Linked DNA regions of Homo sapiens: regions 2, 3 and 4 are each linked to region 1. The links come from fine-mapping of genetic effects on plasma protein levels. A gene starts in region 1. Each other region holds a variant in brackets. All regions are shown on one strand. Distances are between the middles of the regions.

Region 1 (5,508 bases):
TGGGTATCTACCCAAGTGAAAAGACATCAATTTGTCAGAAGGACAACTGCATGCATATGTTTATTGCAACACAATTCACAATTGCAAAGATATAGAACCAAACTAAGTGCCCATCAACCAAAAATATGGAACTAAACTAAGTGTCCATGTCCATCAAATGATGAGTGGATAAAGAAAATGTGGTATATATACACCACGGAATACTACCCAGCCAGAAGAAAGAATGAAATAATGTATTTTGCAGCAGTTTGGGTGGAGCTGGAGGCCATTATACTAGGTGATTTAACTCAGGAATGGAAAATGAAATACTGTATGTTCTCACTTATAAATGAGAGCAAAGCTATGGGTACAAGAAGGCATATCTTTGAGAGGTATAACAGACTTTGGAGACTCACAAGTGGGGAGCTTGTGAGTCTACTAGGGAGGCTGAGGCAGGAGAATCTCTTGAACCCGGGAGGTGGAGGTTGCAGTGAGCCAAGATAGTGCCACTGCACTCCAGCCTGGGCAACAAGAGCAAAACTCCATCTCAAAATAAATAAATAAATAAATAAAGGAATAATTTGTAAAAACAAACACTGTTCAAGGGTAACTAACCAGAAAAATGAACACAACTAGACAAGGTACTCAAAAGGGCTTCCTCAAGACAGTGACATTTATTTTGGGCTTTTATAAAAACAAATTTGGATTAAAGTTGTAAGGGGACCTATTAGACAAAGAAGATAGCTGACTTTTGTGCAGGGGAAGGAAAACAGACTTTGTTTCAAATAGTTGTAGAACCTTTAAAACTATTGGCACATTTCTTCTCACACTGTAAGACTTAAGATGAACAGAAAAATGTATTTAGCAAACAATCTACTACATCTACTCCTGATGTTTTTTCTTCTAATTATTGAAAATCTCAGCTATATTTTTCTTATACAAAATAGTCCCAAAATGTTCTAATGTTGACTGTCTTTTAAAGTTGTTTTTCCTCTAAATTTTACTTGATAAATCATTTTAAATTCGTTTGTACAATTTTTGAATTTGTTCTCTTACATGACACTAGATAATTGTAGACCAGGCAAAGTTTGTATACTAACTGACTCCCTGTCTACCATCTGGTGTTCCCCGCCCCCGCCACCATAAGTGGAACAAACTTCCTTCCAAAAAAATTTACAGCAGTCACAAACTGCTGTTTATGATCATTTTAGATATAAAATTCCATAACTCAAGTTAGCATTGACATTTTATAAGTGCTGTCAAGTCACTCTAGGGAATGAAAATGAGCATCTCACTATGTGCTCTGAAGTGGGGACATATTTCTCTGCTTGTTATGGACGGTGAGAGATGGCTAAATTGAAGCAGAGAAATATTTCAGTGATGCAGAGCAAAGGTGACTTCCTGTTTTGTTTCAGGTTTTGTTTCCTTCTCCTCTCAATGAAGGCTGTGTTTTCTGACATTCGGCAATCCTTTTGCTCAGTGATTTCCCATTGAGAGGGCATAGTGTGAAGGCCTCTGCAGGTCATTCCATTTACAATATAAGCTGAAAGGGTAGAGTGGGGCGGGGGTGGGGGGAAGAGGGAGCTCATTAGTGGAAGAAGCAGACCAGGAGGGGATCTGTTTTCCATTTTCTCCTCCAGATTGAACTCATCTGGATGGAAAGGTTTTGATTGTTGTTATAATCATCATTATTACCTGCGTGATGTCGTTTTCCTACACTTTTTTTTTAAGTGTCGGGCAGAATTGTTGCTGAGAATAACAAATAATATCTGCCATGTTATCCGTGAGCAAAATCAGAAAAAAAAAGTCCAAGTGTATTAGAGCTGTTAGTTTCCACGTTAACCCTTAAGGAGCAAAGCTCAAGAGTTCTAATTCCACTAGGTGGGGGGGGCGGGAATAGAAGGAAAAAACCCCTTTTCCTTGCTTCTGGTGGCCTATTTGTAGTCATGAACAGCATTTCTTTGTTTCTCTCTCTCTTTTTTTTTTTTTTTAAAGGCAATCCTCCCCCCACCTCCTCCCCCGCAGTTATTGAAAATGGAGACCTCTGTAGTCACTAGCTCTGGGTTGATATGGCTCCACCGTTGCTCGCAGGGGTCTGTGTTTTCCGCTACTTGGACAAAGTGACATTGCTTAAGCCTTTCCCCCCACCAGGTCTGACTTTCTGCAGAGCCAGTGATTGCAGAGGAAAAGCTGTAGTTTGCTTAAAGGAAATACCTCCAGGAAGGAGGGTCTCGGGTGGGTTCCCAAGTGGGGAACTAGGGGGACTTTTCCGTAGGGAATTGGGGTGGGCTCTTCAGTGAGGGGCTAGGGGCTCGTTTCTGGGGCCAAAGACGGGTTCCCTAGTGTGAGGGCGCGCTCGACTCGGCGCTGTCTTGGGGTCTCGCACTCGCACGGCTTCGCACCCCACCGCCTGCGACTCCCAGGCCTTCTCTTCCCCGGGCGCCCACTCCATTCTCGGGAAGAGCAGCCGGCACTGGAGGGCAGAGACTGCCCCAGGGGCGGAGCTCCCTCTCAGGCGGGAGGTAGGAAAGTGCAGAGCCGCCCGGGCAGAGGCACAGACGTCCCTGCGGGGCTCCTCCTGAGCGTCCCTCCTGCCAGCCAGGGTCGCAGCCGCAGCGGCGGCCGCAGCTCTTAGCCCACACAGGACTTGTAAACTCTTACTGCACCCTTCTCTCCCATTAGGAGCTTTTCCTCCCTCCTTCCCCCCAACCCCTCTGTCCTCCTCACTTTGGGGAATTTAATGCTTTCTTTAGCATCTTTTTGTGTGCGTGATCTAGGGGAGGAGACACCCCAGAGCTCCAACTAGCTCTCAGCTGAATTCTACTTTTGTTTTTATGTCTTCCTCGCCTCCTCTCGTGTCCCTCTTATCTGACTGATCTGCGAAGTCTGATGCTTCTGCCAGAGGGAGAGGAATAAATAGATGTTGCTGCTTCCGAAGGCTTAGACGTTGGGAAAGAGCAGCCTGGGCGGCAGGGGCGGTGGCTGGAGCTCGGTAAAGCTCGTGGGACCCCATTGGGGGAATTTGATCCAAGGAAGCGGTGATTGCCGGGGGAGGAGAAGCTCCCAGATCCTTGTGTCCACTTGCAGCGGGGGAGGCGGAGACGGCGGAGCGGGCCTTTTGGCGTCCACTGCGCGGCTGCACCCTGCCCCATCCTGCCGGGATCATGGTCTGCGGCAGCCCGGGAGGGATGCTGCTGCTGCGGGCCGGGCTGCTTGCCCTGGCTGCTCTCTGCCTGCTCCGGGTGCCCGGGGCTCGGGCTGCAGCCTGTGAGCCCGTCCGCATCCCCCTGTGCAAGTCCCTGCCCTGGAACATGACTAAGATGCCCAACCACCTGCACCACAGCACTCAGGCCAACGCCATCCTGGCCATCGAGCAGTTCGAAGGTCTGCTGGGCACCCACTGCAGCCCCGATCTGCTCTTCTTCCTCTGTGCCATGTACGCGCCCATCTGCACCATTGACTTCCAGCACGAGCCCATCAAGCCCTGTAAGTCTGTGTGCGAGCGGGCCCGGCAGGGCTGTGAGCCCATACTCATCAAGTACCGCCACTCGTGGCCGGAGAACCTGGCCTGCGAGGAGCTGCCAGTGTACGACAGGGGCGTGTGCATCTCTCCCGAGGCCATCGTTACTGCGGACGGAGCTGGTGAGTTTTGACACGGCCCACCCTTCCCTTACCCTACAGCCTCCTCAATTCTTGGAGTCCTTGTTACTAGCCTTTACTCTCTAATTTTTTTCTCTTCGGATCACTTAATCTCTCCCATAACTGCTCCTCTATCAAAGACCCTTCTTCTTCTTTCTTCTTTTTTCAAAAACAAAAACAAAAAAACCCTCACCTTATCACCTTCCAAACTGATGCACTCTGGCACTGTGTTCCAATAGGCGATCTTTCTAAAACAATCCATGCATTCCAAACCCATCACACTTCTACTCCACAGGAATCCTTCACTTCAACTCCTTACATGTGCAAGTAGCCACATTTTGTAAAGTGATGCTCTTTTTCTTTTAAAATGTGTTTATAATCATTGGGTTTTCTTTGCTGATTCTCAGGCAATCTCAGTCATCAGGTTTCTGTATCTTTAGTGTCTTAGATGCTTGTTAAGATTGTGTGGAGGAAACAGAAAACTGAAGCCCCATTTTCTTCTAATTAAAAATGCCAAGATAATTTCAATAACCTTACTCTAACCGACAGATGTTAGGGGTATGTGTTTGCTCAAGATCCAGTTTGAGCAATTACCTTCACCTTAAATTTCCCCCTCCTTTCAATGAGATAAATTGTTCTTCCATTCCAGAATGAAACAATTGTGAAACATTGCTATGCACTGTTAATTAGCTTCTGTGGCTTGCCATAGAGCTGGCAGACTGAAATTACTGAGCTCTTTTCACATGCCCACATGCCTTCAAGTCATTTTATAAGTGGCATACAGATGAAAGGAGTTATATTTAAGGCGTGTTATCATACACTCACGTAATGTTATTTTAAATCTCACCCCTTATTCCACTCTCATGTTTTGAAAAAAAAATTGTCTTTAATACCTTATTTCATGCTCCTTTTCCGTGTGTGCACCAACCACAGTCATTTCAGTCTTTCCCTACCATAAAACTTTATTGCAGCTCTAAATTTAATGGAGTCAATCACAAGTTGTTTTCTCACTAGTGTTTAGTCTAATTATGACATTTGTAACTTTAAGACCCCAACTAAACCTACTTCATTATGGTCCATTTAATTCTAACTCAGTATTACTTCTACCAACTAACCCAACCTCAAATTTTACCCTTCATATATTTTATAAAGAAGGCAATTTTTTTTCATGAGTGGTCCTCTTTCATACCACATCCCCCACCCCCCAACAACTCTGTTCTTAGATGTGTTGACTTGGTTGCCTCCATCTGTTTATTTCTTGGGCATCAACTTTCCTTCCTCTTTCAACTTGCGCAGTCTAGGCGCATGTCCCCAGTCCATTTCCAGGTAGTAATTCTTAGTTATCGGGAAATTGATTTGGAAAAATTACCTTCTGTGCACGTTGACTCATTTAACAAAGTGAGAGAAGGAGAAGTAATTGTAAAAATAGCTGAAGGAAAAAAAATAAACAGAAGAATTTCAAGAACTTTTTAATGGTGACCTCACTTAGTTTATCACTTTTTGAATATACCTATTGTCTTCTTGATTTTAATCAAGAACCAAAAGCTAGTTGTGCAAAATCATCACAGAAATGTATTTGCTATTAATCTTTGCTAAAAGAGCATGCTTGAGGCTTCGTACTCACTAAAGTCACAGACTGCAGAGTCTGGAAGTGCTCAGTGCAGTTGCCGCTCTGGTTTGCCAGGCACTTAGAATCAGTTAAATGCAGGTGCTCCTCTCAGGCCAAGGGCTAGGAATGAGGTGGCAGTGGTTCAGGCTGAAATGCATTCCTCCCCGTAAAGCACAAAACTTGCTCTTAAACCTCCCTTAGAGGTGGACCTAGAGTGAGTGAGGTTTGGCAAGGTTAATGGCTCTCAAAAAGCCATAGTCAATATGGATAGGAAGCAGTTT
Region 2 (5,508 bases), 54 kb before region 1:
AAAAAAAAGAAAATACTCATTTGGATAGATTGGATAGATTTTTAGACAATTTCTTTTCATTATTATAAATGTATATCTATATCTTGGTAAAGTTGACCTGTTATTTTTTTAGAATAATTTTTCAGAAGTAAAATTGCTTCCTTTCTGCTGCTTTTTCATTCACTTATTTAAGCAAGTATTTTTAGATGCCTGCATGTAATGGTGAGCAAAAAGGTGACCCTTTTATAGTTGAGCTTGGATTTTAGTGATGGTATACAATAAACAAACCAGCTTCTTGAGACGGAGTTTCACTCTTGTTGCCCAGGAAATGGGCAATGGCCTGATCTCGGCTCACTGTAACCTCCGCCTCCCGGGTTCAAGCAATTCTCCCATCTCAGCCTCCTGAGTAGCTGAGATTACAGGCGCCCGCCACTACGCCCAGTTAATTTTTGGTATTTTTAGTAGAGATGGGGTTTTACCATGTTGGCCAGGCTGGTCTCGAACTCCTGACCTCAGGTGATCCACCCACCTCAGCCTCCCAAAGTGCTGGGATTACAGGCATGAGCCACCACGCCCAGCCATGAGCAAACTTCTGATGGTGACTGGAAAGTATACAGGATAATGTGGGGAGGCAGTGGTGAAACTACTTTAGAAGAAAGTGTTAGAAGAAAGTGTCATCTGTGTAAGAGAAAACATTTGAGCTGGTACGTGAAGGATTAGAAGGAACCACAAGTGGGCTGAGGGGAGGAATAATAAAGGCAAAGACCCAGAAGGCAAGCACAAACTTGGCATGTTTGAGAAGTTAGAAGTGTGTCATCTGTGTCTCTGTCATGAGGAGTGCTCAAGTTCCCTCTAGGAGCCTTATGGGCTATCTAGCTCTTTTTCTCTTCTGATCATGTGCTTGCTTGCTTTCTTCTTTGCTTATATAGCAGAGTTCACAAATTAAATCTAATGTAGGCTGGTTAATAAAGGAAATGAACATGAATTCACTGATAGGCTCTTGCATTAATGTGAAAATGTAAAGTCTGTTGTACACCATCAGGCCTTCTAAATGAAGCCCAAATTCTGTAAGGTAGTGAATTGTAACCTACTGATTAGTACATGATCCATGCCCATTCTGTTATAAGGACTTGCCTTTCTGAGACTTCACCTGTATTATTCCTAAGACTTTTGTGAATAATCCTTAAAGTAGTGACTCCTTACATCTTTCTTTCATTTCTTCTTTGTAGTCACTTGAAATGACAGCATGAACCATCATTTCATTTGAAGGCCTGAGCCTGAATTTTCAAATAGACAAAATGCTCTCTTTCTCCGAAGATTTGCCATGACCTCTGCCTTTGGGAAAAAATATTTGAGATTTTAAAATTTTTATTCTGTAGTACAAAAATTATGTTTTTCGTTAATTGGTCCTGTGGAATTGGAAGGAAATTTAATATTTATTGACTCTACTTTGGTATTATTTTCAGAGTGAGAAGTAACTTTAAGTGTATTAAAATTTCATTCATTTTTGCATGAACCAAACTTTCCCTACACATCGCTGTCCTTGACTGTCCAGAGTAAACATGTCTAACTCTGGAATGTTTCATTTCCAATAAAAGTATTCAGCCTGTCATTTTGGGCCTAAGTAAAATGGGATAAATTAGCAATCTGAAGTTAGGATCCTAGCCACAGAGGGCCATGTCTCATTTCTGGTTTAAGTGCACCCCTCATCCCCAGCCCTTACCTTCTTCTTTCTCTTAAGGATTGAGACAATCCTCTTGGTGCTCTTGGTGCAGGTGCATCTTGGTCACCTCTTACATGAGGGCCACAAACTTGGTAAATGGGTGGCCTGGAGATGGGGTTGTACTAGGTATGTGACCTTGGTGATTGCCTTGTCTCAGTTGTAGTATATGGCTGAGTCACATTCATAGTACACTACATACACATACTGACCAAATGCCAATGGCTAAGGCTTGAAATTATTTCACCAAGACCTAAACTGAAGATTACCATCATAAAATAAGCTTCTAGAATCCATGAATAAGTAGGAAATCATATTTAAAATTTACTGTAATTTTATTAAAGCTCATTTTTTAAATTTAATGCAGTGCAGAGTCATTAATTTCTCAGCAGTATCAGGTGCTAAATTGCTCACTCATTAAACTACTAATTTAAGATAGTTATTTTAAATTATAGAACAGGAAGCAACTTACGAGGTTGCAACCAAATTATATTTATTTTTTCTCCATTAGTAACTGACTAAAAGTGTTTTCTTCAACTCTGGGATTTGAAGATTTTGTGGTCAGTGGTGATATAATTTCACTGAAGCGTGCTCACAGACTAAAACTGTGCACTACTCAGTGATGCGTCCTGAATGTTTTCAGAGACAAACCTAAGATAATGTTGCCCTTGTTTACTTTCATTATTTCTGATTTTTTTTTTATGCATGTGTTTGCTGCAT[C/T]ACACAATTACTTAAGAAGTTGTCCCTAACCTTTGTGCTGTGGTCTGAATGTTTGTGTCCCCCTGGCCACAAAATTCATATGTTGAAATCTGATCATCAGTGTGACAGGATGTGGGGCCTTTGGGAGGTGATTAGGTCATGAGAGTGGAGCCTTCATGAATGGGATTAATGCCCTCGTAAAAGGGGCCCCAGACAGCCGACTTGCCCCAACCACCACGTGAGGACAAAGCAAGAAGCCACTGTTCATGAACCAGAAAGCAGACCCTCCACAAACACCAAATATGCCAGCACACTGATTGGCTTCCCAGCCTCCAGAACTATAAGCAAGAAGTTTTTTTATAGTAACAAATTTATTGTTCACAGTTCTTGCTTATAAACTTTATAAACCAGACTAAGGCATTTCGTTATAGCAGCCCACACGGACTCATATTTTGGTTCTAGAAATGTGACACTGGAATGATGTGGCTCTCAAGATGACAGTGTTGCTTCTGAATGTCTATGTTCATGTCATCTTTAATTGCATGAACACCAGTTTTAGCATCTTCCCTTGAGTAGAAAGAGATTCTCTACAGCAAGTATTACGTAAGAAGTACTGGTGGCCAGGCACAGTGGTTCACGCCTGTAATCCCAACACTTTGAGAGGCGGAGCCAGAGGTATCATTTGAGCCTAGAAGTTCGAGAGCAGCCTGGGCAATATGTCTAAACCCCATCTCTACAAAAAAAATACAAAAATGAAAAAGCCGGGTGTGATTGTGTACACCTGTAGTCCCAGCAACTTGAGAAGCTGAGGTGGCAGGATTGCTTGAGCCCAAGGGGAGGGTTGGCGGCAGTGGGTGGTTCGAGGCTGCAGTGAGCCATGATTATACCAGTGCGCTCCAGCCTAGGTGACAGAGCAAGAGCCGGTCTCGATAATAATTAAGGCCAGACGCGGTGGCTCACTCCTGTGATCCCAGCACTTTGGGAGGCCAAGGTGGATGGATCACCTGAGGTCAAGAGATTGAGACCAACCTGGCCAACATGGTGAAACCCTGTCTCTACTAAAAATACAAAAATTAGCTGGGCTTTGTGGCTCGCGCCTGTAATCCCAGCTACTCAGGAGGCTGAGGCGGGAGAATCGCTTGAACCCAGGAGGCGGAGATTGCAGTGAGCCGAGATCATGCCACTGCACTCCAGCCTGGGCAACAGAACAAGACTCTGTCTCAAAAAAAAAAAAAATTATAATACATTAAAAAAAAAAAGCACTTGCATTCTGAAGGCATATTCACCCTTGAACTGATAGCATTCAATGTATAAAACACATGAGTTTCACTCCAAGTTACATATAGAATGTTTATCTTTATTTGAGAGGAAATATCCAGTTAATAATCAGAATGTCATACTAATTAGGTATGACCATAACTTACGTTAGTCACATGGTCATTGATTGCATGCAGATTCTGGCTGCCAGAAAGCACATTGAAGTAGGTAGTCATTTAACCATTTAACTGTTAGATCTTGCAAAGGTTGAAGCTGAAGCTGAGGAGCAGGTAGTACACAACTTTACAGGTTAATGCTGAATGTCAGTTCATTCTGAATTCTTACCTTCAGCCAAAAGGTACAAGGGTCTTTGCAGTCTGAAGCAAGGCCCAGATGGCAGAACTTGTGATGGCTAGGAGGGGAAAATTTGACCTTAACTGGTAGTTGTGGTTTTATCAAGCCAAAAATGCTGACTAGAATAATAATGAGAGCTAATGTTTATTGAAAGCCCATTGTGTACCAGATACTCTGTTTTCTCTAATTCAAACCTCTAAATATTGCTCTTTTAGTCTTCACAGTAATCCTATATCATGATGACCCCCATTTATTGATATGGAAACTGAAGCTCAGGAAAGACAAAGCAATTTTTACAAACTCACACTACAAGGAAGTAGCAGAGGCCAACATTTAAATCTGGCCCCAGAGTTGTGTTCTTCTCATTAAACTGTGTCTCAGATCTCTCAAATGTGAGTGTGGACTTTTCTAACCAATAGCATTTTTTAATTAATGTTTTAAAAATTTGAATAGCTTTTAGGGTACAGTGGGTTTTTGTTTACATGGATGAATCATACATTGGTGAAGTCTGAGGTTTTAGTGTACCTGTCACCCAGGTAGTATGCATTGTACCCAATGTGTAGTTTTTTATCCCTAGACCCGTTCCCATCCTCCCACTTCTGAGTCTCCAAAGTCCATGATATCACTCTGTATGCCTTTGCATACACATAGCTTAGCTCCCACTTACAAGTGAGAACATACGGTATTTGGTTTTCTGTTCCTGAGTTACTTTGCTTAGAATAATGGCCTCTGGCTCCATCATAGTTGCTGCAAAAAGACATTGTTTCTTTTTTTATGGCTGAACAGTATTCCGTGGTGTGTATATATACCACACTTTCTTTGTCCACTCATTGGTCAGTGGGCACTTAGGTTGGTTCCATATCTTTGCAGTTATGAATTGTGCTGCAATAAATATACACATGCAGATTTTTTTTGATATATTGACTTCCTTTGGGTAGATACCCAGTAGTAGGATTGCTGGATCAAATTCTATCCAGTAGCATTTGAAACTGCTTTACATTAACAATGAGGGACAAAAAAAATAACAATGAGGGCTTACATTATGCTACTCTTGATACTAGACATTTTCATATCCATTACTTCATTTAAACTCCACAACCAAATTACTCAATAGGGATTGTTTTCTTTATTTTTGTAAATGAATGTGGAAACCAGCTCATAAAACTTTAAATTCCTTGCCCCAGTGTCATAAAATTACTGAGTTTGAGTGGCAGTGCTGAGATTAAAACCTAAGGCTCTAGGATTTCCAGCCCATATTTTTTCTACTGTATCATGTTCTTTCCCAAAGCACTAAAAAACATTTCCTGGGTAAATGACTGTGGGCTTGGGGACACTATGCCCACTTTCTGGCCTTCATGGGTCTAAGTTGCTTCTTTGCTTCTTCACTTTTTCTCTCTGATCCTGCTCAGATTAATCTCTAGTAAATCAGATTTCTTTCCTAGGCTGTCTTATCCCACATATATAGTAGATAATATGTCACATATTTGTGAATGTTAAAA
Region 3 (5,508 bases), 19 kb after region 1:
TGATAGATCAGTATGGAGACTATAGTTAACAATAATCTACTTGTACATTTCAATATGTACAATAATTCACATGTTCACAGCATAAAGAGGAATGTTTAATGTGGTGGATATTACCCTATAACTTGATATTTACACATTATATGAATGTATGAAAATATCAATGTACTCTGAAAATATGTCCATCTATTATGTATTAATAAAAAATATAAGGGACACTTACTCGTATCAGGCACAATATGTGCCAATGACATGGAATGAAAGAGCAAATAGGTGACTGGCACTCCCTTTCCTTTCACCTCTTTTCAATACTTGGCATTGAGTGGACACATGGTGTTCTAGAGGCTGTGAAGCCCCCTTTTCTTTTTGTTAATTGACTTCCTTAGAGTCTATCTCAAAACAACACTTCAGAAGTCATGAGGGAAAACAAGCATAATTGTATTGACTCTTTCTATATTTTGGATATTCTGAATAACTCTTGGATGCAGAAAACTTGTGAAAGGCAGTTTATTTGAAATTTTCCAAAGACAAAAAGGAATAAACTGAATTTCCTTTTCTTATTAATATAGCGTTAGTTCTGTCAGTCTTAAGCAATTTCTTTTACAAAGTGCAAATTACTGTGAATTGAGTCCTTTATTACAATATTTGAGGTTTGTTTTTACAGCTAAGTTGAGCAAATGTTACTTTTACTTTGTAAAGCCTTGTTATATCGCCTAGGTTCACCAGTCAACTTCATCACATTTTCCATATACTGGTGTAATCCAAAATAAAATTTAATATGATATTCTTTGCCCTGTGTATAGGTGTAGGAAATAAATATTGTTTTACATAGGTAATGAATGGTTACTAAGTCAAGACACACTTCCTTTTATAAAAAAATGAAAGAAATGTCTTATTTTTTGTTAATAGGACTTTATTAAGGTATAATTTATTTACAGTAAAATACTACAAATCTTAAGTGTATGCTGCATTTAAATTTTGACAAATGTATATATTTATGTAACCATCATCCAGATCAAGATAAAGAACATTTATTTATTTATTTATTTATTTATTTATTTATTTATTTATTTATTTATTTTGAGACGGAGTCTTGCTCTGTCGCCCAGGCTGGAGTGCAGTGGCGCGATCTCAGCTCACTGCAAGCTCCACCCCCCGGGTTCACACCATTCTCCTGCCTCAGCCTCCCGAGTAGCTGGGACTACAGGCACTTGCCACCACGCCCGGCTAATTTGTTGTATTTTTAGTAGAGACGGGGTTTCACCGTGTTAGCCAGGATGGTCTCGATCTCCTGACCTCGTGATCCACCCGCCTCGGCCTCCCAAAGTGCTGGGATTACAGACGTGAGCCACCGCACCCCGGCCTAAAGAACATTTCTTTAAATTGTCTGGTGTCTTATCACCCATTCTGCCCTGAGGCAAGCACAGTTCTGATTTTCATTGCCATAGATGGGTGTCGTTATTCAGCTTCACGTAAATGGAAGCATACTGTACACACTTGGGACTGGCTGCTTTGGCATACCATGGCATTTTTGAGACTTTGAGTTCTGTGCATCATTTTATTTTATTTCTAATTGTGTAAAAGTACACCCTTGTATGAGCATAATACCAATATGACTTCTATATGGTTCCTAGTTTAATATAGTTGATTTCTGAATCTGCAGGAGTTGTGCTGTTGTTGTTGTTGTTGTTCGTTTTCTTCCCTTTCATCATTGACACCAGGACTCTAGGGTTCGGGTGTTTTGTTTGTTTGTTAATGCCCTAGGAACAATAAGACCCTGTCGGTTTTCCATTAAGTGTCCATTTGATGACTTGCAATTTTGGGAAGAGGGAATGTGTTCCATGGGGTGGAATCTAGGGATGTTTTACTATCGCCTTGTTTCTAGAAGGATAGTGGAATTGACCTCCTGAATGGCCAAGTGGTATATTGCCCATCTTCTGTTTTAAGGGCTATCTGAACAAGTTCCACCATGGCATCCATTCCTGCTGCTGTTTTGATAGCTGTGATGATAAGGTAGATGATCCATCTAGTGCACTGATTTCTTCACTTTACTAACCTGCTTGTCTATTCTACCCCAGCCACTCACTTCCATGAGCAGTTCTGGGCCTTTCAGTGGTGCTAGCAGTGGTGCCAGCATTGTAATATTAATTCTAAGAATCCCATTCTTTGCCTGCTGCCTCTTTTCATTCCAGATGATTTGTTGCAGTATCATCACTGCTGTTTTTTTTTTTTTTTTTTACCATGTTGAGATTACCTATCCATCAGCTACTGCTTACTATCTGCTAAGCCTCTGGCCTTCTTGTCTATGTGAGATATCATGGTCTACTGCAATACTGATACCCTTGAAGATACCCTCAATTTCTTTGCTTTCTCTTCCTCTTCCATACTCATCTGGCAAATCCCAACTCCAGTTATTTGAGAAAATTACTCAACTGAGGTGACTGGTTTCACTTTAAATTCAAGATAGAAAATTCAAATAGACAATCAAGATTGCCAAGCATTCTTACCCACTATAAGGTTTGCCTTTCTATTTGATGAAATAACTGCTTTATACTTTCTTTGCTTACATGCCCACATCCTGCTTTTCGTAGCCCCTCATTCCCCATAGCTGATGACTTCACTTCATTCTTCAATGAGAAGGTAAAAGCCATTGGAAAGAACACCCTCATTATTCCACCAACCAATTTACAAACTTGTCAATATCAGTACCTTTCTCTCCTTTTCCTTCTTGTGTAGTGGATAAAGTCTTCTAGCTTTCAAAGTCCTATTCTCTCTTTTGCTCAGGGTCCAGTCATCACGTTGCCAGTTGAATTTAGTGGACCCTTTTCTCTCTGAACTCATTTTAGCTCTGAGGGTCATTTGACACAGAGGACTACCCTGCTTTTATTTTGGAAGACGCTTTTTCAATTCCACACTCTCCTGTATTTCCTTCCACATCACTGGATGCTGCTTCTCAGTCTCCTTTATGGACTTCATATTCTCTGTCTTATATATAAAGATGTAGTTCCTGCCTAGAGAACTACAACTCACCCAAAGCTTTAAATATCATTTTCTCACAGTATATTGGAGGCCAGACTAGTTTAGGTCATTAAGTTATATGTTCTTATTACACATATACATTGTGTTTTAATTTCATGTCATGTATCACATGTG[A/G]CAAATTATTTTGTGTGTACTTTCTTTGTTCAATGTCTTTATCCTCTTCTGGATTGTCTGTAGTGCCCATCATGTGTCCTACATGCCTATCACAGAGCCTGGAATGTAGCAGATGCCCAATATTTGCAGAATGAATGAATTCATATGTAAGTGACTGAAAGAGTTCAACAAATGTTAGTTCTCTTTCCCTTTCTCATCTCATATTTACAGAAGAATGGATACACCAGAGTTATGGAGTCAGAAGATACTACTATCAGTTCTACAGAAGAAAGACAAATTCATGGTGTGATGGATGTTACCAGATGTTAAAAATTATGGAACTGTTAAAAATTTTGGAACTGCTCATAGATACCTCGTACAGGCAGTTGGAAATATAGATCTAGAGCTCAGTAAAAAAGTCATAGTTAAGGACCTGGATCTTCAAATTATAAAATTTTATTTTTTATATCTTTTAAAATGTGTTGTGCTTTGCTCCTATGTGTTTTAAAATGGAGGAAAAGAGGACAATTGGGATTCAGGGGTCAAATGCCAGGATATGAGACTTACAGTGCATCTGGTAAAAATTAAAATGATTTAAACTCTGATCTGATTAGAAAAGGTCAGTCTTGAAAAAGTTATAAAGGAGATTGTAACACAAATACAATTGTATTTTCTTCTCTCCTTCCCCATAGTTTTTGACAATAAATCCTAAGCACAGATCTGAGGCTTTTTTTCCTAGAAAAAACAGAAAAATATCCACTCAAACATAGTAGTCCTCCAAAGTCATGGTACATGAAAGGTTATGAGAGTTTGGGGATCTGATGAAGTTAATTATAGTCTTACACCTCTGGATAAGACCCAAAAGCATTCAATTTCAAACAAAGGTCAGGGATAGTTAGAAAGTTTTATCACACTTAAGCTTGAACTCAAACAATGTTGCATTAAATAGTGACAGTCCAGTGAGTGTCATATTTCATAGCTGTATCAGGGACTTAGACTTCTTTAGATCTTCTAAGATCATATCAAAAATACTAGTATCCTTTTGTTTTTAAAAAATAAATGAGCATATTTGTATGAGCAAAACTGAATAAAGAAGGCTAAGATTCTTGTCTCCTCTGAACTATTTTGATCTTTATAAGAAGCTACTCTGAGGCAGCAAGGCTGTTCACTGCTCGGGCACTGCGTGTATCATGGGGCATTTCCCCTGAGCTGCAGACTAACTTCTGCGAAGTACTGGGCATGTTAACTTTGCAAACTCAGATTTCTTTCTACTAGGGTGATAAACTCATGTTTCTATGAAATAAACAGTCTCCAGGTTCATTAGCAGATATGTAGGAGATCATTAGTATTAGGAGAGTCACTAGAAAAATCAAGCAAGAGGAGTGGAAGGAATGTGAGGAAGAACTAAGCTGAAAATAGTTTTCTGTCCTTTCCATGGCTGCTGGTAAATGTAGCACTGCACTCTGTCCCACAATTGAAGGTATTGTATTAATTTCAGGCTTTGAGGTAAATGAATTGCTAATGTTAAAACTGCCCATGTTTGAAGATCTCTTTGTCACTACTTAGCCTATTTTGTCAAAACCAACTCCTTTAACTTTTAAAGTATTTTTTTTTCCTTACATAAAGCACCAAGGCAGATGCTAATTCATTTATAAGCTTTTCTTCTCAACAGTGAAATACAGAAAAATCAATATCTAATGGTTTTTGTGCAAAGCTCAGTAAATAATAGATTTCATTTTCCATTCTAAAAAACTTGTGCCATTAGGAGGTTGGGAGAGGAAGATTACTAGCAATTAAACAAGAAATGATGGTAATGCTACAGGCCCCCCAAAAAGAGTATCAAGAAATCAACTATAGGTAATAAAAATAAACTGTTACATCTGATTTAGGGTAGCAGGCACAAAAAAGGTGACAGCTAATGCATGCAACATACCTCTCTCTGATTCTTCACAATTTCACAGTTCTTGGGCTTGTGGGGATGTGTACGTTGATGTGTGTAAACATAATTCAGATGAGGATTATGTTTCAGATCTATTGATCTAAGATACCCTTTTCATGAATAACCTAAGATATGAATTTTTGGGTTGAGTAAGCATAAATGAGAGGAGGTTCTTTCATATTTGAGCTTTGTGGATATAAACTCAGCTTCTCCTTATTACTGTTATTTTATCGAGCTACTTGAACTATACAGATAATTTGCTTATGGCAAGAGCTAGGGATTGGGACATATTGTCCCATATAAATATTTAAAATATATATTTAGTATGGCATTGTCACCTTGGAGACCAGCAGAAATAAGAAGTATATTGCAGATGAGCAAAATTTAGTCCCGAGAATATTTGCTTAGCTCATTAGCTGTTAGGTAATAGTCTAGCTATG
Region 4 (4,744 bases), 26 kb after region 1:
TGGTATTCATAATATTAATACTTCCATAAGCATAAAGCATACCTCTTTCAGGATTAAGGGGTCATGCTCTTCTCATGCATGGGGGTGAACAGCATTTCCTCAGGATTTGGGTGGTTTGTTGAGAATGGAAACTCGTTCTCATGAGCATACTGACATTGAATAAGAGGACATGTAGATAGAATAAACATGAATGTAGTTCCAGGAGAAAAAATTCAGACACACAGAATTGACAAGAGCCTTCTCACCACCAAATTGAGATCTAGTCTGAGCAAAAAATGTGAGTCTGAGCAAAACAAAAGAAAGCTAATATTGGAAATGTGCTTATAACTAAAATGTGTTTTTCAGAACGCTGTAAATGTAAGCCTATTAGAGCTACACAGAAGACCTATTTCCGGAACAATTACAACTATGGTAAGGAAAATTTCATGGTTGATGTATAAACTGCTGTGTTAAGAGAGGTGTGTGGATGCACCTATGAGGATGTGCACATGTAAACGAGTGGAGCCATTTAAGAATAAGGCTTAAAAACAGAAGGACTATTTTTAGGAGCATAGTCCCTCTGCCCCGACCAATTAAAATGTCTCACACGGGCAAAATGCTTAACACTTGGTTGATGTTGAAGCACATCAAGCAGTATTGTCATCCTAGAGCCATGCACTTAAGTACACAGAGATAAGTATCAAGATACATGGGACTCTTCCCTGCCTGGAGGCTGAAGGAGGATTTGAGCTCAAGTTGGGTTGCATAGGCCATCAGTTGTGCTTCACTGAGTGAACAGCAGAGCACTTTGATGCATAAGGAACTGTTAAAAGACTCAAACTTGACTTCTTCAGTCAGTCTATCCCATGAAAAACACTGACAGATTTGGAAAGTAACACTTGTAGAAGTTGCTGGTATTCAGCGAAGGAAATGTGTTGTTATCTAGCTTGACTTAAAATCCGACATTCTAATAAACTAAATATTAATTGAAGAGCCACCAATCCAAATGTAGCTGACAAACTTAACTGAAGGATTAAAAAGCCTGCCATTTTTGCATCAGGGACTGTGCTAAGTGATTTCCATACATTATCTTTAATTTTCTCAGCTGCCCCATGAGATATATTACCATCTTGATTTTATCAATGATTATCGAACCTAAGTAGTCCCTTCTTTGATTGTTCACAATGTACTTTGGATGCTGGTGTATATTTTAGAGTCATAAATTCATTTATACAGTCATTATATTTAGAAAGGGCAATTAACAGAGCTTTCCCGTTGACACATAAGGGACTGATATTTACTGTATTCCATATGCATTTTGATTTTTTCTAATATCTATGGTATTAATAAAAGGTATGTTACTATCTCTGCATAAGACTATTGATGTTGAGTCAATGAGTAAACATGGAGATTAAACAGACTTTTACAGTGAACCTTATTAAAATAAGAGTTTTATTATTACATTTATGTACACTATTTTAAAGTATATAGGATATATACAGCAGATTTATTTCTTCTATACTTTTGGGAATTGAAAGGAGAGAAATGAATAAGACTGTAAAAGTTAGCTTCAATATCTTTCAAAATGCAGTGTATTAAAAAATATAAAGTTGAAAATTTTGGGTTTAGTTAAATCTCTTTAAAACAAATCCACCTTGTTTCCCAAATTTTTCTTCAATGGAATTAATTTCTATGTTTTGCCTGCTACTCCTCTTAAGAGGATTGTAGCTTTTCTTAGTCAATGATGGATGCTCTTTCTAAGTTTGTAAGCTTATGTTTATGTAAGAAGTCAAATGCCTGGCTGCTTATCTAAGAACCCGCTTCTTTACAGATTGATGTGAAGAAGCCTAGGGAAAAGGGAGCCCTTAATTTCTAGGAGATTAGCTTGTTAAGATTGAAAAATGCTTTCTGAACTTTTATATACTGTAACACTAAGAATAAAAACATATCAATTTTATATCAGGGAAATGTAATTATTTATATTTAATTTATGTATCCTATTATCAAGTTTTATTTTATCTAGCTTCTGTAGTGCTTCAATGGTTGTTGCTGTTATTTTTGTTAAAAATTGAATGACAAGTCATGGAAAGTGAAGGTCTTAGAGAAAGTAGCTGAATGAATATCATAATAAAATGGGATATGGATTATAATTAATGGAAAGGAGCAGATAATTTCTTTTTTGTAGCCAAGTAATAGCTAAGTTGATCATAGTTTCAGGATTGCCATTTGTCTGGGATTTCTTACAGTTTCTTTGGGGAAGGGAGGCACTCAAATGGTTAAATAGAAGGAAGAACTCTGAAAAGGAAGTATATTTTACTTCCAAAATATTTTTATCTTCTATATCTGCATGTCAAGGTGGGAGCAGTTGGAAATTCAGACAAAACCTCTACTTCATTTAGATTAATTCTGGGAAAAACTCCTTAAGTGTTAACCAAATTACTTGAGTGAAAAAGTAGGTCTTGTAGAAAGATATTTATTTTGGAGTGGGTACATGTGCTAAACATTTCTAATGAAAATAGTAGACACTGGGTAAATAAATCATTAGTTTGAGAACATTTGCACAGTTCACTAATCTCTAATAGTTGATGGATGCTATGAAGCACGTTCACTTAAGCCAGGACACACAAAAATGCCTGCTAGCTGGGGTTGTGAATTTCTCATCTGATTCTGCCAAATGGCATTTCAAAAAGGGCAATCTTATCTTTTGTTAAATACAGAATAGGGAGAACATGAATAGAAAGAGGCTCCACTTGCCAGTCAAACCAAGCGAGGACAGTTGGGTAGTTACAGTTTGTTTGCTACACGTTCTCATACTTGAGGCAACTAATTCTCGGAAGACTGAAATGTGAAGCTTTTAGAATTCCTTAGTAACTAATTTCTGTCATGTGTGTTGTACTGGTAGAATAAGTTTTTGTGACGAAATTGGAACATTAATGGGGGGAATGGTTGATTAGCTGGTTTTATATTTTTCAAGGATTACTTTCTTCTAATCCTTTATAGTCCAAAATCTCTAAAATATGTGGGAAAGTACTCAGATTAAAGTGGTTTGCAATTATGTGCCTAAGAAGTTTTTGAAATGTTGACTCATTTGGATAAACGGTGTTTTCCTCTATATAATGTCCATGGATAGTGAACTGGAGCAATGAGGGTACTGGGAGAAATGCCACTGGCTTTTTACTGATATTTTTACTTCTTTCTTGGTGTTTTAAAACTTCTCTTTTTAAAAGCTCATTTACTAGAAGCAGGAATCTGAACAACTTGACTCTTTTAAAGGGGAGAGATACAGAAAAGAAGCAGATCTGTACTTTCTAGATTCTGAGTCACATACTTTAACTTTGCAACTGAAGGCAATTTGTTGTTACATTGATAAGTAAAGCAAGTCTTGTGAGATAAATTGGGTGCCAATATATCCATTGAGAGAGGTAGAATAATGCCATTGACACGTGAGAATATATTCCATAGCACGTGAGGGAAAGGAATGTTGGAGTGTCTGACTTCAAAGCAGATGGAGGAAATAAGATCTAGTGGTGACCATTTTTATTCAAGAAGTAAATATAGCCCACTTAGAGGAGAATATAAAAGATAATCTGTACTGAACACAAAGGAAAAAAGGACCTAATATCCGAACAAAGAAGAAAATGTAGCCCACCTAAAGGAGAATATAAAAGATAATCTGTACTGACCACAAAGAAAGAAAGGAGCTAATATCTGAACAGTGAGCCAAGATGAGGAAGGTGAAAAGATTGCAGAACCAGTTTGGGAACACTACTGAGCAGGACAATTTTATAACATTACAGAGGCCCACTACTTGAGAAAACCTGTTAATGGACCTGATAAAACAGTGTCGACAAGGAATAAAGCATATTTAAGTATTAGGTCTTTTCATATAGTAAAATTAACATAGTTTAAATTCCTCTTGGCAGCAATTGGAACTGCACATGCATATATACACATCCAAAATGGAATTTTAGAGAAAAATTGTATCAGATTGTTGACTCAATCTTTGATTCTCTAAATGGATTTCTCAAAAGCACATGCACACACATGCATAAATACATGCAAATATATACACAGCCACAAATTGGAAAGAGAGCAGGGCTGAGCATTAGGTCAGGTGTGTTGTTTTATGTCACACACTACAGTCTAAGGCAAAAATATCTGGCTGACTTTTCTGTTCCATTCGTTGAATATCAAGTGGATAAGAATTAACTAAAGAGAAGCCTACTTTGGCTTTTTTTGAATGGGGTAGCTATTATGTGTCATATTATTATCAGCTTTTCTTGTCTTTTATCCCAGTCATT[C/T]GGGCTAAAGTTAAAGAGATAAAGACTAAGTGCCATGATGTGACTGCAGTAGTGGAGGTGAAGGAGATTCTAAAGTCCTCTCTGGTAAACATTCCACGGGACACTGTCAACCTCTATACCAGCTCTGGCTGCCTCTGCCCTCCACTTAATGTTAATGAGGAATATATCATCATGGGCTATGAAGATGAGGAACGTTCCAGGTAATTCACTCTTTAAGGATACAGAATAACTACTTTGCTTATCCTACTCTCATTAAATTTGTCTCTAGAGATGCTACCCTCGCATTTTTACATTGGGATCTGTCTACCTTCTTGGGGATTACAGATAAGTTTTAGTTGGGTTTCTTGATTTCATATATGGAATGGGTGTATGCGTGTAGTTTATAGGTTTACATTTTTCTTGGGAGAGGGGCCATAACTTCATTTGTTTCTTAAAGGGGTCTGTGACTTACAAATGGTTAATAA

Which allele goes with the higher level. Positions count from the first base shown, and alleles are read on the strand shown. Strength reflects both the effect of a copy and how common the allele is.
In carriers of allele T in region 2, the plasma level of the protein whose gene starts at base 3,059 in region 1 tends to be higher than with C alone (strong association).
In carriers of allele A in region 3, the plasma level of the protein whose gene starts at base 3,059 in region 1 tends to be higher than with G alone (weak association).
With allele C in place of T in region 4, the plasma level of the protein whose gene starts at base 3,059 in region 1 is lower (strong association).

What was found. PIP is the posterior inclusion probability: the model's chance that the variant is causal. Protein levels are from antibody-based Olink assays in UK Biobank. Linkage for the fine-mapping came from a reference panel and not from the study's own genotypes, which makes the PIPs less certain.
Region 2: its variant is fine-mapped to the plasma level of the FRZB protein (UK Biobank, PIP above 0.99).
Region 3: its variant is fine-mapped to the plasma level of the FRZB protein (UK Biobank, PIP above 0.99).
Region 4: its variant is fine-mapped to the plasma level of the FRZB protein (UK Biobank, PIP above 0.99). The variant lies in the coding sequence of FRZB. If it changes the protein, the assay may bind it differently, which can mimic a change of level.

What each region holds. Positions count from the first base shown.
Region 1 is chr2:182,864,188-182,869,695 of GRCh38, reverse strand. It overlaps FRZB (frizzled related protein), which reads left to right and starts at 3,059. Exons shown (of 6, transcript NM_001463.4): 1 at 3,059-3,621. The coding sequence starts at 3,144. RefSeq lists an enhancer at 2,928-3,896.
Region 2 is chr2:182,917,782-182,923,289 of GRCh38, reverse strand. It overlaps NCKAP1 (NCK associated protein 1), which reads left to right. Exons shown (of 31, transcript NM_013436.5): 31 at 1-5,508. Among named protein-coding and RNA genes, the nearest start is that of FRZB, 54 kb to the right of the region's middle. The variant C/T (reference allele first, on the strand shown) is at 2,420.
Region 3 is chr2:182,844,798-182,850,305 of GRCh38, reverse strand. All of the region lies in intron 2 of FRZB (frizzled related protein), which reads left to right. It overlaps LOC124907916 (a long non-coding RNA gene), which reads left to right. Exons shown (of 2, transcript XR_007087330.1): 2 at 3,214-3,731. Among named protein-coding and RNA genes, the nearest start is that of FRZB, 19 kb to the left of the region's middle. The variant A/G (reference allele first, on the strand shown) is at 3,151.
Region 4 is chr2:182,838,145-182,842,888 of GRCh38, reverse strand. FRZB (frizzled related protein) reads left to right here. Exons shown (of 6, transcript NM_001463.4): 3 at 346-411; 4 at 4,276-4,480. Among named protein-coding and RNA genes, the nearest start is that of FRZB, 26 kb to the left of the region's middle. The variant C/T (reference allele first, on the strand shown) is at 4,281.